Linked DNA regions of Homo sapiens: regions 1 and 2 are each linked to region 3. The links come from fine-mapping of genetic effects on gene expression. A gene starts in region 3. Each other region holds a variant in brackets. All regions are shown on one strand. Distances are between the middles of the regions. Region 1 overlaps CDC73 (cell division cycle 73). Region 2 overlaps CDC73 (cell division cycle 73). Region 3 holds the start of B3GALT2 (beta-1,3-galactosyltransferase 2).

The links. PIP is the estimated chance that this variant, and not a neighbour inherited with it, causes the effect.
Region 1: its variant is the best candidate, but not a certain one, in a credible set for the expression of B3GALT2 in whole blood (INTERVAL, PIP 0.87).
Region 2: its variant is the best candidate, but not a certain one, in a credible set for the expression of B3GALT2 in whole blood (TOPMed, PIP 0.51).

What each region holds. Positions count from the first base shown.
Region 1 is chr1:193,162,840-193,167,087 of GRCh38, forward strand. The region is part of intron 10 of CDC73 (cell division cycle 73); the gene reads left to right. Among named protein-coding and RNA genes, the nearest start is that of B3GALT2, 22 kb to the right of the region's middle. The variant T/C (reference allele first, on the strand shown) is at 1,558.
Region 2 is chr1:193,223,394-193,227,641 of GRCh38, forward strand. The region is part of intron 13 of CDC73 (cell division cycle 73); the gene reads left to right. Among named protein-coding and RNA genes, the nearest start is that of B3GALT2, 39 kb to the left of the region's middle. The variant C/T (reference allele first, on the strand shown) is at 2,008.
Region 3 is chr1:193,184,114-193,188,361 of GRCh38, forward strand. It overlaps B3GALT2 (beta-1,3-galactosyltransferase 2), which reads right to left and starts at 2,500. Exons shown (of 2, transcript NM_003783.3): 1 at 1,906-2,500. The region is part of intron 10 of CDC73 (cell division cycle 73); the gene reads left to right.

The DNA of each region.
Region 1 (4,248 bases), 21 kb before region 3:
TGGTGCCATAAATATTCTGGAATTGAATTCCTAATATATTTCATTATACCAAACTTGAGAACTAAAATAAAGCAGCTTTTTGATCTTTCAGAAGTTACTGAATTCTTACTTGTGTTCTATAGATGGCTTTTAGAAAATAACACCCCATTCAGCTTCTGATAGGATTATAATATTTTAGTAACTTATCTAGCTACACAAGGTATTTCACAATATCCTTAGGAATTACTGAGTTTTAGAGTGACAGAATAATTACCAATTATTCTGATAGTAAATTTGTAGGTACATTATAATTCATCAAGAACTTTGTGGGGTTGTGTGTGTGTGTGTGTGTGTGTGTGGGTGTGTGTGTATATTTTTTTTTTCCCCCTCCTAGAAAAGTTAACAGGCTGGGCGCAGTGGCTCATGCCTGTAATCCCTGCACTTTGGGAGGCTGAGGCGGGTGGATTCCTTGAGCCCAGAAGTTCGAGACCAGCTTGGGCAATTTGGCAAAATCCCGCCTCTACAAAAATATTCAAAAATTAGCCGAGCGTAGTGGTATGTGCCTGTAGTCTCAGGTACTCAGGAGGCTGAGGCAGGTAGATTGATTAAGCCCAGGAGGTCAAGGCTGTAGTGAGCCATGATTGCGCCACCACACTCCAGCGTGGGCAACAGAATGAGACCCTGCCCGCCCCCCAAAAAAAGAAGTTACTTTAAGAAGAAACTTCAAGAACGTAACTATTTAAATAACTTGATATTGGAAAATATTTTTCTTTACCTAGGTTAACTGCAGTAGACATAAATCATCTAATACTTTCTAATAAATTGATAGGTACCAATTTTGGGGCACCTGTGATAGACATTTGTATTATTTCTAACTTTCTGAGTCATCATTAATATTTTTGAAAAGTTTGTATAACTTTTAAAGCTTTAAACATCAGTGTAAAAAGGCTATAGTATAGTAGATTTTTTTGTTTTTTGAGATGGAGTCTCACTCTTGTCACCCAGGCTGGAGTGCAGTGGCGTGATCTGGATCAACTGCAACCTCCGCTTCCCAGGTTCAAGCTGTTCTCCTGCCTCAGTCTTCTGAGTAGCTGGTATTACAGGTGCCCGCCACCACACCCAGCTAATTTTTGTACTTTTTAGTAGATGGGGTTTCGCCATGTTGGCCAGGCTGGCCTTGAACTCCTGACCTCAAGTGATCGGTGGCCTCCCAAAGTGCTGGGATTGCAAGCATGAGCCACCATGCCCAGCCCAGTATAGTAGATTTTACAAAACTATGCTTCATTGTGTCATACTGGCAGTATTACATTTACATTTTATATTAGAAACCTCTTGTAGATCATCGAAGACTAGTCCATAGTACATAGTAACTGGTTCTAAGTGACTGAATAATTTCAGTCAACATATTTTCTGTGTAACAGATCAAAGGAGAAATAACTGCTGGTGATGAACAGCAGTGTGGAGGTTTTGTTGCCTATGGTTGATCAGCTGCCTGAATCCTGAGTTGTCTCATAGGGTGGCATTATGTTAGTAATTTGCTGTAGCCCAGAGAAAGGCTGAGAAACTAAGTAATGTTAG[T/C]ATACCATGAGAAACTGATTCATTTTAATTAAGCTTATGAGAGTAGCATTTGAAATCAAATGCTGATTTATTAATTTGCAGTGATAAATGTAATTAACAAGGGCACTGGATTCTCACCTCTAGCACATAACATGTTCTCTGTGTAAAGCTACATTGGAAATCACAGTGTACTGTGCAATGAGCATATAATAAATTATATCCTTCAAATGTTTAGTGGTATTAAAGTAGTCTGTTATTTTTAACTCTTCATTAAAAAAAAGGACTTGTTGCAAGTCCAGGGTACCTTTCCCCTTGGGCACTGCTTAGATAGGTTTTGATTTGCCATTGTGATTTCTATTCCTTGTTGTGTCTGACTAATCCCTTGCCAGATGGATATGATGTGTTATTTCTTTAGATGTATAGATTACTGAGTCAACTTTAGGACTGTGTTTCATTCCATTCTATTTGATTTGTTAAAAAGTGTTGGTGAGGGAACTAGCTCTTTTGAATTTGGGATTTATAATGTAGATATCCAAAGGATCTGATTTATCACAGGAGAGGTGAGGAGCGATAGACTGACCTTTCTGCACGTTTGAGCTGTAAATTTAGGATTAGTCACATTTAGCTTTGTTGATTTGGAAGGGGAGAGAAGAGCAGGGATTTCCTGCTGGGTTTTGGAAATCTTTCTTTCTTTTTAAAGAGATGAGGTCTCACTACGTTGCCCAGGTTGGACTTGAACTCTGGGCTCAAGCCATCCTCCTGCCTTAAGTACCTGAGATTGCAGGTGTATGCCACTTTCCTCAGCATGGAAATCACTTTCTCTACCTTTCACTTATTACAGGTTGATAGTCAAATTAATGAGGCTCCTTAAACCTCACCCTCCCAATTAGTAATTTCAGTGCTGCAAAGACATTACAATTTAAGTGTTTCTTAGCATTGTATAAAAGTACTTAAGATTCAGAATGCAGTCAATATGAGTAAAAAATCAAATATGGTTAAAGTGCAAATAAAGTAGTATCATTGTAAAGTACAAATAGAGAAGTATAAAGAAGACTTTATGTATCAGTAGATAAGTAATAATTATATGTTGGGATGAACGTTTTACACAGTCTCAGGATGGACACATTAAAAAATTCTGCTGTGACATATTTGAAAGACGTGAAGATACATACAGCATAAATGCAAAGCATGAAATATTTTTCATAATTGGTGGATTGTGTAAAAGTTTTGTTTACATTTTACTCATTTGATTGTATTTACATAAAATGTATTTAGTGAAATTACCAGAACCATTTTCAGTAATAGAAGAAAATAATTAGTCTTTTTCTCTCTTTCACACATGGATGCATGCACATGCATTCGTATCTCTCTCTCCCTCCCACATATGCATAAAATTGATCAAAATGTGGTTGAGGTCTCCACTGGTACACTTAAGCTGAGCATGCTAACATTTGGTCTGTAAGGAACAACCTACCATTTTTATATGTGCCCTTATTTACTTACACTGTATTGATATTTGGTGTTTGCCCATAAAAATAAGCCAGCCATCCTTTCACTATGAGTTTTACATGTAAGTTCTGTTATGCCTTGTAATTTTAGGTTGACTTTGTTAAAAAACAATTATCAAGTTAGTCATAAAACCTAGTTTCCAAAACCAGTGTTTGTTATCTAAGCTGAACTCTTAGAAACTTTAATGTGAAATTATTTTTAATGATAATATAAAAATGAAGAGTCAGGTATGAGCAAAAGTAAGTAATATAGCAGGAGTTTGTATAGTTTAAGTGCATTTTTTTTTCTTTCTTTCTTTTTGGAAACAGGGTCTTGCTCTGTCACCCAGGCTGGAATGTAGTTGTACAGTTAGAGCTCATTGCAGCCTTTATTTCCTGGGCTCAATCACTGCTCCCACCTCAGCTGGGACCACAGGCATGCACTGCAATGCCCAGCTAATTTTGGTATATTTTGTAGAGACACGGTTCACTGTGTTGCCCGGGCTGGTCTCTAACGATCCTCCTGCTTTGGCTTCTCAAAGTGCAGAGATTACAGGTGTGAGCCACTGCGCCCAGCCTTAAGTGTGTTTTCATTATTGCCTTACATTTTTTAGTCTACAGTGATTTAAAATGGTTTAAATGTAATGATTTAAGTTGGGGATTGACAAACCTCTTCTTTAAAGGGCCAGAAACTAAGTACTTTAGGCTTACAGGCCGATAGACAAAACCACGGAAATTATGTAGGTGCTTATGTAACAAGAGATAAATCAAATTTTCACACTTTTTTTCTTTTTTTTTTTTTTTGAGACCGAGTTTTGCTCTTGTTGCCCCTGGAGTACAGTGGAGCTATCTTGGCTCACCACAACCTCTGCATACCAGGTTCAAGCGATTGTCCTGCCTCAGCCTTCCCGAGTAGCTGGGATTACAGTTATGCGCCACCACGCCCGGCTATTTTGTATTTTTAGCAGAGACGGGGTTTCTCCGTGTTGGTCAGGCTGGTCACAAATTTTTAATGACAAGTACAATGCATGATAATAATGTGCAATACTGATTTGATAATGAGAATAATGGAATTTCTTTTTGGGTGTGAGGGAACATTTTGCTTAATTGAAGTTCCAAGTTAGTGTTCTCTATGACCAAAATTGATTGCAAATTCATCAATGCTGGTTTATAATGAGATTTTATGTATTATTTCAAAATTCATTAACTATGTAATTGGGGAACT
Region 2 (4,248 bases), 39 kb after region 3:
TTTAAATTAAATTCTCTATTGGAGGTTTTAAATATCTAGATACTGTTGTTCTTGCTGCAAATTCAAATGAGGTCAGTTTTACCATTTGAGATATTTGATTTTCCTTGCAGTTGTCAAAATAAGGGTAGGGTTAGGGTTGGGGTTGTTGGGGAAGAGGGTGAACAGTGAGTTTATTTCTAGTTTACCATTATGTTGAACTTAACCCCTGAGTCTCAGCTTTATAAGGGAAGGAACTCTTATTAGATTTTCTACCTTGAGCAGAATTTGGACTTATTTTCTATTTCAGGAGCCCAGTGAAATATAGTGAAAAACCAGGCTTAACTTTAATTGGTTTGCAAATCCAATGAATAGCAGTCTGCAGTGTTGTTCTTACTTCTTTGGGTTCCTCTCTTTTCACTTGGTCTTTGGTCTAAGTATTTTTTATACCTTGCGCTAGCTCAGATAGGCTTTTAAGATTTTTTTTCTTTTTTCCTTTTTTTTTTTGTATTGATACGTAATAGACCCACATATTTTGAGGTACATGTAATATTTTGACACATTTTTATAATATGTAATAAATCAGGGTAATTAAGATATATATTACCTTAAACATTTATCTTTATGTTGGAAATATTCAAATTATTCTTTGATAGCTATTTTGAAATATACTGTAAATTATTGTTTACTGTAGTCACTCTGCTGATTTATTGAAAACTAGGTCTTATTTCTTGTACCTGTATTTCTGTACCCATTAATCAACTTCTATCTCCTCCACTCCCCCACCCTTCCTGGTCTCTGATAACTACCAGACTACTCACTTCATGAGATTTACTGTTTACTTGTTTTTTTTTGGGAATTATTGTTGCAGTTACTTAGGGGATCTGTCATATTATACGAGAAACAGCATAAAGTCATAGTTTTTAAGGGTCATAATTTGTTAGTGTTTACTCAATGCCATTGTTCCATGTATATATATATATATATGAAATATGCATTCACATATACACATATATGAAATATGCATTCACATATACACATATGAAATATGCATTCACATATACACATATGAAATATGCATTCACATATGCACATACGAAATTTATGCATTCACATATACACATATATGAAATATGCATTCACATATACACATATATGAAATATGCATTCACATATACACATGTGAAATATGCATTCACATATACACATATATGAAATATGCATTCACATGTACACATATATGAAATATGCATTCACATACACACATATATGAAATCATTCGCATATACACATATATGAAATATGCATTCATATATGTACATATATGAGTACAAGTGCCATAATTTCCAAATGGTGGTCTCAGAGCACTTAGAAATCTTACATGGTTTTATCAAAATAATTATTTCAGACCAATTTTTTAGCTCAACCAATGTTTGAGGATGCTGAATGTGTTTTCTTTTTTTTTCTATTGTTTTAAAGATTTATTATGTTGCCTAAATTTATCTTCTTACCTTTTGTCTTTAAAAAAAAATTTATTTCCACAGGTTTTTGGGGAACAGGTGGTATTTGGTTACATGACTAAGTAGTTTGTGAGATTTTGGTGTGCCCATCACCCGAACCGTATATGCTGAACCTGATTTGTAGTCTTTTATCCCTCACCCCCCTCCCACAGTTTCCCCCTGCATCCCCAAAGTCAATTTCGTCATTCTCATGCCTTTGCATCCTCATAGCTTAGCTCCCACTTACAAATGAGATCATTCGATGTTTGGTTTTCCATTCCTGAGTTACTTCACTTAGGCTGATAGTCTCCAGTTCCATCCAGATTGCAGCAAATGGCATTAATGCCTTCCCTTTTATGGCTGAGTAGTATTCCATGATATATATATATATATATATATATATATCCACATACTACGGTTTCTTTATCCGCTAGTTGATTAATGGGCATTTAGGTTGGTTCCACATTTTTGCAATTGCGAATTGTGCTGCTGTAAACATGCGTGTGCAGGTATCTTTTTTGTATCATGACTT[C/T]TTTTCTTCTGGGTAGATACTCAGTAGTGGGATTGCTGAATCAAATGGCAGTTCTTCTTTTAGTTTTTTAAGGAATCTCCACACTGTTTTCCATAGTGGTTGTACTAGTTTACATTCCCACTAGCAATGTAGAAGTGTTCCCTTTTCACTTCATCAATGCCAACATCTATTGTTTTTTGATTTTTTGACTAGGGCCATTCTTGCAGAAGTAAGGCAGTATTGCATTTTGGTTTTGATTTGCATTTCCCTGATCATTAGTGATGTTGAGCATTTTTTTCATATTTCTTGGCCATTTGTTTATCTTCCTTTGAGAATTGTCTTTTCCTGCCCTTAGCCCACTTTTTCATGGGATTGTTTGTTTTTTTCTTGCTAATTTGAGTTTGAGGTAGATTCTGGATATTAGTCCTTTGTCAGAGGTATAGATTATGAAGATTTTTCTCCCACTCTGTGAGTTGACTGTTTACTCTGCTGACTGTTCCTTTTGCCGTGCAAAAGCTCTTTAGTTTAATTAGGTCTCAGCCATTTATATTTGTTTTTACTGCATCTGCTTTTTGGTTCGTGGTCATGAAATCCTTGCCTAAGCCGGTGTCTAGAAGGGTTTTTCCTGTGTTATCTTCTAGAATTTTTCTAGTTTCAGGTCTTTGTCCTTGATGTGTTTCAGGACTTAAGTCCTTGACCCATCTTGAGTTGATTTTTGTATAAGGTGAGAGATGATCCAGTTTCATTCTCCTACATGTGACTTGCCAATTATCCCAGCACCATATGTTGAATAGGTTGTCCTTTCCCCACTTTATGTTTTTGTTTGTTTTGCCAAAGATCAGTTGGCAAAATACTTACAGTTGGCTGTAAGTATTTGGGTTTATTTCTGGATTCTCTATTCTGTTCCGTTGGTCCTTGTGCCTATTTTATACCAGTGCCATGCTGTTTTGGTGACTGTGTCCTTATAGTGAAGAGAAGAGAATGAAATGAAGAGAGTGGATATCTTTGTCTTGTTCCAGTTTTCAGACAGAACGCTTTAAACTTTTCCCCATTCAGAACTACGTTAGCTGTGGGTTTGTCATAGATGACTTTTATTGCATTGAGGTATGTCTCTTGTCTGCCAATTTTGCTGAGAGTTTGAATCATAAAGGGATGCTAGATGTTGTCAGATGCTTTTTCTACATCTATTGAGATGATCATGTGATTTTTGTTTTTAATTCTGTTTATGTAGTGTATCACATTTATTGACTTGTGTATGTTAAACCATCCCTGCATCCTTGGTATGAAACCCATTTGATCATGGTGGATTATCTTTTTGATATGTTGTTGGATTTGGTTAGATGTATTTTGTTAAGAATCTTTGCATCTGTGTTCATCAGGGATGTTGGTCTGTAGTTTTCTTTTTTGGTTATATCCTTTCCTGGTTTTGGTCTTAGGGTATTACAGGCTTCATAGAATGATTTAGGGAGGATTCTCTTTCTCTATCTTGTGGAATAGCGTCAAAAGGATTGGTACCAATTCTTCTTCCAATGTCTGATACAATTCAGCTGTGAATCCTTCTGGTTCTGAACTTTTTTTTGTTGGTAATTTTTAAATTACCATTTTAATCTTGCTGCTTGTTATTGGTCTGTTTAGGGTATCCAGTTCTTCCTGATTTAAGCTAGGAGGTTTGAATCTTCCCAGGAATTTATCCATATATTCTAGGTTTTCTAGTTTTTGCATGTAAAGTTGTTCATAGTAGCCTTGAATGATATTTTGTCTTTCGGTGGTGTCAGGTGTAATAGCTCCCATTTTGTTTATCTTTTCAAAGAACCAGCTTTTTTTGTTTCATTTATCTTTTCTATTTTTTTATTTTTGTTTCAATTTCATTTAGTTCTGCTCTGATGAGAATGCTACATGTAAAGCAGCACACTGGTTGGTGTGCCATATATCTGAGCGATTGGCTTTGCCTTCAAGAAAACTGTTGTCCAGGTCTGGCGTGGTGCCTCATGTCTGTAATCTCAGCACTTTGGGAGGCTGAGGTGGGAAGATTGCTTGAGCCCAGGAGTTTGAAGTTTGAAACCAGCCTAGGCACTACAGCAAGACCTCGTTTCAAAAAAAAAAGAAAGAAAAGTTACAAGAATGGAAACCTGAAGTCTGTTAGGGAGATAACAGACTTTGTAGATTATCATAATAATAATTTTAAAAGCCCACTGTAAAATTGTAGAAAATTGAATTCTACTTTGAATAAAAAAGGTAAATTCATAGTGAAATACATATGGC
Region 3 (4,248 bases):
AGAGATGCATCTTAATTTAGACTTCATGGTATTTGTATGTTTTAGATGTTAAGCTGTTGAGATATTAAATCCATATATAACTATAAATCTCCCATTGATAAATGAAGTGCATGTGTCTAGCCTTTAAAAAATTCCTTATTAAAAGATTCTCAGGTCTTATAAATTTTTTTGTTAAAAAGAATATAAAATTAAAATAACCATGCCTGCTTTTTATTAAATGATAAAATTATTCTCCAGTTATTGCCTGTTGTATTTTAATTCTTAAAAAGAGAGAGCAAAACAAGAAAGTTCAGTAGTATGCAAAATAGTTCTGCACTTTTACATTTTTAGAAGAGAAATAGCTTTGGTTTATCTCTTCTTTTTTGATATCTTCACATTATTAATGTGTATTTATAGCTTGTGGATGAAGTTCATGGGGAGAATGTTACTGTAAAATGCTGTTCAGTACACACTCAGTTTTTATCATTTGGCTTTTAAAAGTGTTGATCTCTTTAGTCTGTTGGTGATGGTTTAATAGAAAAACTTACACTTTTGTTTTGAGATGTATAGCTTATAAAACTGCTTAATTGGTGACTTCAATATTGAGAGATTAAGGTACCAAGAGGGACTTGAAATTTTTACAACCATATTTTTTAGTACTATTTATTATTAGTCTTTATTAGAATAAAAATTCATGGGTGAGAGTGATGTTGAGGTGTAATAGAGTCTGGTAAACTTGTTTAATCTTCATTTTGGAATGCAGTACTTACATATTTTTAAAAAATGTTTGCCTTTTGTGATTATTAGATAATTACTGAGTTGTGTTGTGAAATTGAGGAAAAATCAGGATCTTTGATAGATTTGTAGAATTTTAGAAATATCTTTAAGTTCTTGAGCCCTGAGTTGCTGTTCTATGATTGTTGCTAAAATAGTTTATTTGGTTTATCTGTGCCCTGCACACACATATAGTGGCGGTAGTTCATTACTGCATATTAATATAGCCTGGAAGCATAGTAGCTACATTTATATTTAATTTTTTGACCTTGTATTGCCATTTGTGGATATTTTTGTATCAAAGTATTTCCATATTATGTTTTTGAATTTCACTTCTGAAATGATAATCAGAGACAACGTTAAATTTGATCATTTGGAATCAGTCTTTTACATAAAATGTAAGCTATTTAAAATAGTTAATTTTTAAAGCCACTATTGATGTCCCTTTGTTTAAAGTTCTATTCATGGTCACTATAATAACACGAGGCTCTATTGTGGGGTTATGCATAAACTCACACTACCTTATGTGATCTTATGTTAATGCTTTCCTTTTAGTATCTTCTTGTAGCTTGGTAATATTTAAAATTTGTTGATACTCTCTTTGGTTGTGTTCATTATCTTCATTTAGGGAGATGTTGGGGAAGATTTTGTTACTAAAAGCTGTTACATATTAAGGTTTTGTTTTAAAAGGACTTTGAAAAAAAAACTCTTAAGGTTTTCCTTGCTACTATTTAATGAAATTTCACTGCATTGTGTCTTTTGATAGCCATTTTTAAGAGAGCATTTAATTTACTAGATAAGGATTCAGTTTGACCTAATTTGATAGAATATTGCTGTGTTTTTTGTAAAGGGCTACAGATTTTTTTTTAAGTTTAATTTCTTAAGGAATCCTTTAAACACATCTTCTTCTTATTTGCCTTTTCCCTCTGATGTCTATTACCCAGAATTACTCCAAGCTACATATTTAGCTGCATAAAGCAGTGACAGCTTGTCTTCTAAACAATGACAAATTTTAAAATCAGATATTAAGAAACCTTTTCATAGTTTCAAGGGCAGTGAGCTGTATGAACTTGCTTATCAGGTATTAGTGCCTCCAGGGCTATAAAAAGGTAACACATTTAAATGACTATCATACACAAGATATTGACATACCTTCCTTGGTCAGGCCATTTATGTGAAGAGGATTATGCCCACTGAAAATACTTTTGGCACGCCATCACTTCAGCAAAAAAGATGCTATCGAACATGCGCACATCCCCCAACAGTCTGCCTCCTGCGATTGCTTTTCACAGTATCCAAAGTGTCCATCTGTCTGCTTGTCTTCGAGTTACCCTCCTTGTTCATATGGGTCCTAGTCTTCTGAAATTTTCCCTTTCTTTCATTTTCTCTCTTTCGTTAAACAAAAGAGCTGTAGTTGCCCGTTCTGCTTGTAGCACTGTTGACTCTTCCCGACAGTTGATGCATTGAAGCTTTTTACATCTGCTATTTTCCTGGCTGGACAATGCAGTGCTGTGTTCTCGTCTCAGTATCCATATTTCTACTAATAACACTGAGCTGCAATGTAAAGCAGCCAGAGCTAAAATGTAGTGCTTCAGTTGTATTGGAAAAGAATAGGATTTACCTCTCTTCTTTCGTTGTTGCCTGGCAGCTGCAGGAAGGATTTTGAGCAGTTTTAATGGGGTTTTAGTCTATAATATGAAATCCACGGTTCCTCAGCTGCTGCACAGGCAGGCAGCAGTTTAAATGTGGGCTTGACAGATGCTCTCTCTGACAGAGCAGAATTTAACGTCACTGCTTGGCTGAATCCCACGTGATTGTTTGCATTCATTTTGACTAAAAACCTAAGGTAGGGAGAAGCTTAGAGATTTTGCTTTTATGTGATAAATTATATATGTTGAATGCAAGTGTAGTGATGAGTGAATAATTTGAAAATGTGATGATTATGAAATGGTTATGATTTTATTTTTTCCAGCTTACTTCCTTTTTTAACTTTATTCTTAAGTACAGGCTTTCTAAGTGTTTTCTGTGTTAGATGTTGGTTTTCATGTTTCTTACATGCTTTTGTAGGGTGTAAGCAGTATAAGCTTTTGTGTGTAAGTTGGTGTAATTTAACCCCTTCAGTGCATTCTCTTCTTGAAGTTTTTTTTCTCTGCTTTCAAATTGCTCTTGATTTTTTACTAATATGTAGTTAAGACCTATGGTTTCTATTGAAACCATGTATCTTTGTAATTTAGATCCCCCCCCCCGTTTTCTGGGGTTTGTATAAATAAGCTGTCTTGGATTACTTTACTAATGCATGATGTGATACAGCCCACTTCTTTTTTGCTCTTATGTGGTTTTTGGTGTTCTTGATGGCAGAAAACTTTATTTTAAATCACTTTTTAATGTTGTCATTTATTTTTTATTTATTTTTCCTTCCCTTTAAAATTACATGTATCGTAGAATTCAGTAAAATGATGTAATAGATATAGCACACTTGTACAGGATCTGGGGGTAATGAGATTTTACTAATTATGTTTACTTATTCTAATGTTTCAGAAAGATTTAATAACTTGCCATGAGGCAGATTTTATTAACACTACACACTCACTGAGATTTTTCTAATATGGTTAGTTTCTGGGGCTGGCACCTTCTTTTCTTACTGCAGAGCAGTAGGGAAGGTTTTTTTAAATTTTTTGTTGTAGTAAAAAGCCTTTATTATCAGTTTTTCCTCTGTGACTCTAGGGACAGTAATTCAGTCCTAGAAAGTTATAGTTTTGGAGCTTAAGCTAAAGGTTAACAGTTATATACATATTCTTCATCTCACTGCCTCCACCATTAATATATGCTATTTCAAATGAATATGAATTTGTTTTCTCTGATATTAAAAAAAATTTTGTCCACATATTTTTGAGCTTTGCTGATGAAATGTGCTTTGTAGTTTTAAGAACCCCACTGTATTAGAAATGTTAGAAGGATCGTTAAAGAAAAAAAAGAATTTTATAAATAGGAAACCTAAAGCCTAGACTGAGCTTTGACTTTTCCTAGTTAAGTTTGAAGGAGAGGACTAAAACCCAACTTCCTTGTAGTCTATATCCACCCATACTGCAATTCTCACTCACTACCGTTTTGTTTTTAAAATTAGTTTACTAGTTAACAGAGTAATGCTTAAGAACTTACTTAAAATAACTTATTTTCCAGAAGTACAGATGTGTTTTTGTAGATCAGTATTTATTTATCAGTGATTCTTTACATAGGATTTGACTATGAAGCTAGCCACAATGACCATTTATGGAGTATTTACTGAAAATCAGATTGCGTGCTAAGCTTACTTGAGCTGTTATGCAAATGGCTCTTTTCTAATAATTTTATTATTGTAATACCCACTTAAAAGATGCAGAACCAGTGCCTGGAGTTGTAAAATAGTCCAAATGTCAGATAAATACTGATAAGAATAGAGGCCAAGCTGGGAATTGAAGCAAGATTATCTAAATTCTTATCCTCTGTGTTTTTGTT